Linked DNA regions of Homo sapiens: region 1 is linked to region 2. The links come from fine-mapping of genetic effects on gene expression. A gene starts in region 2. The other region holds a variant in brackets. All regions are shown on one strand. Distances are between the middles of the regions. Region 1 overlaps USP10 (ubiquitin specific peptidase 10). Region 2 holds the start of USP10 (ubiquitin specific peptidase 10).

Evidence for each region. PIP is the estimated chance that this variant, and not a neighbour inherited with it, causes the effect.
Region 1: its variant is fine-mapped to the expression of USP10 in whole blood (TOPMed, PIP above 0.99).

Annotation. Positions count from the first base shown.
Region 1 is chr16:84,763,417-84,766,429 of GRCh38, reverse strand. USP10 (ubiquitin specific peptidase 10) reads right to left here. Exons shown (of 14, transcript NM_005153.3): 10 at 2,167-2,344. Among named protein-coding and RNA genes, the nearest start is that of CRISPLD2, 55 kb to the left of the region's middle. The variant A/C (reference allele first, on the strand shown) is at 1,402.
Region 2 is chr16:84,698,464-84,700,963 of GRCh38, reverse strand. It overlaps USP10 (ubiquitin specific peptidase 10), which reads right to left and starts at 964. Exons shown (of 14, transcript NM_005153.3): 1 at 853-964. The coding sequence starts at 873. RefSeq lists silencers at 393-502, 543-652, 663-882, 973-1,492.

The DNA of each region.
Region 1 (3,013 bases), 65 kb before region 2:
TCCCTCCCAACACGACGTGTCCCAAGGAACCACAGACAGTGGTCAGGGCTGGGTGTTTCCCAGGTGACAACTGACCACCCAGCTGCCGTGGACACTCCACAGAGCACCAGAATAGAAAGGGGCCAGTGGAATAGAGCTCACAGTGCAGAACACAGAAGTGACTTGTTCAAGGTCACATGGCTGCTCAACTGGCTTCTAAATCCACTTCCACAGAGGACGGGAAACCAGCTTCTGAGGGCGTCAGCGCAGGTTTCTGAGGTTCTTATTATTCACCTGTTGAAAGTTGTTGATTCAGTCTCAGAACTGAGACTGAATCAAGTCTTGATGCCTCAAAAGGGGTGCTCTTTCTTTCAGGTACGCAGCATTTGGGACAACAACAGACTAAGAGTGTCACTGAAATACCAGCCTGGGGGTTATGCCGCAAGGCCTCAGAAAGGAAATTAGGCTCCAATGAGGCCTCTTCAGTACTTTCGATGGGTAAACCTTCTTGGAGATGGTACAAGTTTTGCTGAATTCCACATCACAGTGGTACTGAAAAGCTCTCAGGTAAATAAAGAAAAACCTTTCCGAAGGACTTTGTGAATGAGCAAAAAGCTGCTTAAGGGAACTGGCACACAGCCAGGTGCCCAGGGACTCCAGCCCAGTCACGGGTCTGTCTGTGTAAAAAAGACCTCCCTTCACACTCTCTTCACTTTCTACCTCACCTGCTTCCAATCAGTTCACAACAGCCAAGACAGGGAAACAACTGTCTGTGGATGGGCCAATGGATAAAGAAACTGTGGTGTGTATATATAGACAAGGGAACACTATTCAGCTGTAATAAAGACCCTGCCATTTGCCACAACAGGAATGAACCTGGGGAACATTATACTAAGTTAAAGAAGTCAGACACAGAAAGAAAAATATTGCATGGTCTCACTTATACATGGAATCTTTATTAAAAAAAAAAAAAAGACGAAACTACAGAGATAGGGAAAAGAGTGGTTCCTAGGGGTGGCGAGTGGGAATGGAAGATGTCGGTCGAAGGACACCAAGGGCAGCCACACAGGCGAACAGGTCTAGAGATCTGATGTGGAACATCGGACAAGAGCTACTCATAGTGCACTGTATTTGGGACTTTTGTGAAATGAGTAAAACTGCAGCTGCTCTTGCCATGTGCACACACACACACACAAGGGTAACTGTGATGGGGAATATGTTTATCTGCTTCACTGTAGCAACTATTTTACTATCTCTATTTCATAACATCTGTGTATACTTTAAATATACACAATTTATTAACATAAATAAAATTCCTCCAGATACACTGTCTTCTCTTACCAAAACACATGGTTTGGTTAGCTGGTTTTTTTTTTTGAAGACAGTCTTGCTCTGTCACCCAGGCTGGAGTGCAGTGGTGTA[A/C]TCTTGGCTCACTGCAACCTCTGCCTCCCGGAGGTGGTTTTATGTTGCAAGTTTTAAATGCAGATGAAGTCTAATATATATATATATATTTTTTTTTCTCTCTCTCTCGTGGTTATTGTTTATGACCTATCTTATGAAACCTTTGCCTACCCCTAAGTCATGATGACATTCTCCTGTATCTTTTTCTTTTTTTTTTCTTGAGACAGAGTCTCACTCTGTCACCCATGCTGGAGTGCAATGGCGCTATCTGGGCCACTGCAACCTCTGCCTCCTGGGTTCAAGCGATTCTCCTGCCTCAGCCTCCCTAATAGCTGGGATTACAGGTGCCTGTCACCACACCTGGTTGATTTTTGTATTTTTAGTAGAGACGGGGTTTCACCATGTTGATCAGGTTGATCTCGAACTTCTAACCTCAGGTGATCCACCCGCCTTGGCCTCCCAAAGTCCTGGGATTACAGGCATGAACCACCGCGTATGGCCAATTAGCTGGCTTTTCTCTTACTCCCTAGCAGTGAGCAGCTGAACTTGACAGAGTAGAAGGGAGGAGCTCCCTGTCCCCTGCAGACATGCGCCAGCAGGGAGAGAATAAGCCACGGGGGCTGACAAGGGAAGCATCAGGAAGTGCAAGAGAAGAGCAGGCAGGGGAGCAAGATGCAAACCATTACGTCCAAGAAGTCTCAAAACAAGCCTCACACCTTCCCCCTTCACCAACATGGCAAAACCCTAGAAAAGGCAAATATTAAGTTATTCCAGAAAAGCACAAACCTGATGTGTCCACCAAAAATGCCGGTGATTGGAGTCTGAACAAAATCCGCCTGGCGGGTGACGGAAGTCTTGTTCCGGGGGCCCACTTGTTCCCATTCATCCTCGCTTCCTTCACCTTGTTCTTCCTGCTCTTCTTCATTGACCGAGTGGTTTTTGGGGCCGTTGGAAATCGTAAGTTCTGAAAAGGAGAGCATCTGCTTACACTACTATTTACGACAAGAACAGCAAAAAAAAAAAAGGCACAGATCTGTCGATTGCAGTTTTAAAAATGAAATCAGGGTGTGGTCTACATTAGGAGCCACGGCAACCAATCGCAACAGGAGCAACGTCACTGGATCCACGGCCAATCGCAACAGGCACAATGTCACTGGATCCACGGCAACCAATCGCAACAGGTGCAACGTCACTGGATCCATGGCAACCAATCCCAACAGGCACAACGTCACTGGATCCACGGCAACCAATCGCAACAGGTGCAACGTCACTGGATCCACGGCAACCAATCACAACAGGCGCAATGCCACTGGATCCACTGCAACCCATTGCAATGCCACTTGATCCACGGCAACCAATCGCAACAGGTGCACCACCACTGGATCCTTGTTTACATAAACTCCTAGAAATGACATCCCTGGGACAACTGGCGAAATTTGAAGATGCTCTGCAAAGTCGGTATTACCGTGTCATTACAGTTGTTTTTCTCAGTTAGATAAGGGACTGTGGTTACGCAGGAGATGCTTTAGCACCTGAGATGAACTAAACTGTTAGCTGCAACTTAACTTTGAATCATTCAGGGAAAATGTATGCGTATGTATGTATATATGGATGGACAGATAAGACATATATA
Region 2 (2,500 bases):
TACATCATGCCGATTTTTGTCCAGAATAATTATAATGGCGGAGGGGGGAGAAGATGTGAGAGAAGGGGTGGGAGAGGGGAATAAGAGCTTAACTCTACACGCACATCTCCCAAAAAGAGCTCTTTCTTTCCACCACGGGATTATTGTAAAGGGCCCCCAAGCTTTAGCTACTGTTCAGGCAGGGTGCGTTAGTTGTCAGCCTGGCTGGGATGGATTCGTGCAAGGGATGTCACTCAAACGCAAGTGAAAGTACGGTCCTTGCGACTTATTTCGAGTTTTCTTTGCAACAGCAGCCCAAGGCCGCTACTCTGCTACTTCTATCTAAAAAACAGAAAATCGGCAACCCCCGCATCATCAATCAAGCTGAGAAAGGAAGCTCTTGGGGCAAAGGGGCAACAGGGCACCCCCAAATCTCTGAGGCTCGCTCCAGGCAGAGGCAGCAACCTGAGCTGCTCTGGGGCCCCTGCGCTCCAGGGGACTCCCGGAGCCCCCGGGCCGCCTCCCCCGGCCGGCGCGGCGGGGAGGGCCCCACTCCACACCCCGGGCTCGCCCCGCGGTCCAGCCCCAGGGAGGTTAACCCCTTCGGCGCCCTCCACGCCCTCCCCAAGCGGGGCCCGGAGCCCCCGCCCTTCGACCTCCCCGGGACTAGGGGGTCCGGGTGGCTCAGGGGACGAAGGCGCGGCGGGCGCGGAGGCGGCGGGTGGCTCCGGCCTAGGCCCGGGCAGCGTGTCCCAGCGCCCTCCCCCACTCCCACACGCTCGCTCCGGGCAGGGCGCGGACGCCCGCCCGCCGCGGCGTCCGCCCGCCCGGGGCTCGGGCCCCTTCCGGCCGAAGGCGCAGACCGGCGGCTACCTGCGGGCTGTGGAGGGCCATGGCTGCCCGTTTCATTGGGACTCCGCGATCCTCCGGCTGCTCACGCTGCTTCCCCCGCCGCCGCCATCTTCTCGCCCGCACATACACACTCGCATCGGCCGCCGCGCCTGCGCACTGGCCGCGCGCCGCGGGGCGCGGGGAGGCCGGCCCGCTGCTGCGCCTGCGCGGCCGACAGGTGGGCGTGCGCCTGCCGGGCCGCGGACATCCCCTGCCCCGCCTGGAGCCTGCCGGACTCTGAGCCCCGCGACCCTCGGGCGGAAGCGGCCGGGCGGCTGCACACCAGGAGCCCGCCGAGGCCTGGCTGTGGATCCGGAAGGGGAGAGGGCAGGCAGGTAGAGGTGGCAACGCCAAGGCGCCGGCGGGCCCGGCTCCTCACCTACTGGGGGCCACCTGGGCCCCCGGAGCCCGGGAGTCGCGGGCTGAGGTCGGCCTGGGGCCCACGAGCCGCCCTCAGCGTACCTGGGCCCGGGCCTCGGGAGTGTTCGCATTAGATCCCCGAGGAGGGTCTGGTTTATGAAGATCCCGTTGCCGCGCATTCATTCATTTGTTCACTCTTCATTCACTCCCCAAGTCCTGCCTGGGCGCCTGGGCCACGCCTTTGGCTAGGCATTAGGGGAAAAAAGCAAAACAGACAAAAACAAAACGTAGGGCATAAAAGCACGCGTAAAGTGCTTGACATGAGGCCTGGCAAGTAGCAAACACTCAGCAAGTGCTACGTGTTGCACACGTGCGTGCGTGTGCACGGGCAAACCAGCCTTGGGGGTCGTTGGTTCATTCATTATTAAGAAACAGGGGCCCCTGCCTAACTGCACTGTTTTCCAGCCAGTGGGTCCACCCTTGGGTTTTGGCCCCTTTTCTAGCTGTGATTTCAGACAAGCGACTTTCCTTCCCTAAGCCTTGGTTTCCTCACCTGTGAATAAGACAAATATGTCATAACGCGTAAGATTTCTGTGAGGTTCAAATTAGATTAACGTGAGCACACTGGCCAAGAGAATAGTCAATAAAAATTGGCTACTGGGATTGTTATTAATAACCATTACTATTGGTTTCATTTATTCAACAAACACCTACAGAGAGTCTGCTCTTGCTAGACCGTACACTGAGCAGAGGAGATGAACAGGAAGATCCATTCCCACGTTACATAAAATAGGGAGCCTGGTCTCTTCATAAATGGGATGCCATGAAAAATATAAGTGGGCCAGGCGCAGCGGCTCACACCCGGAATCCCACACATTGGGAGGCCGAGGCGGGCGGATCACTTGAAGTCAGGAGTTGGAGACCAGCCTGGCTAATATGATGAAACCCCAACTCTACTAAAAATACAAAAATTGGTGGGATGTAGTGTGGCACACCAGGCGTCCCAGCTACTCAGGAGGCTGAGGTGGGAGGATCACTTGAACCCCGGAGACGGAGGTTGCGGTGAGCCGAGATCGTGCCACTGCACTCCAGCCTGGGTGACAGAGCGAGTCTCTGTCTCAAAAAAAAAAAAAGAAAGAAAGAAAGAAAGAAAAGAAAAGAAAAATATAAGTGGTAGGGAGGGGTTGTTCCAAAATAGAAGAGCTAGAAAACATAACCAAATACAATGTGTCATCTTGCTTGGATCCTGATATGTCTTTTAAGCTGGTTT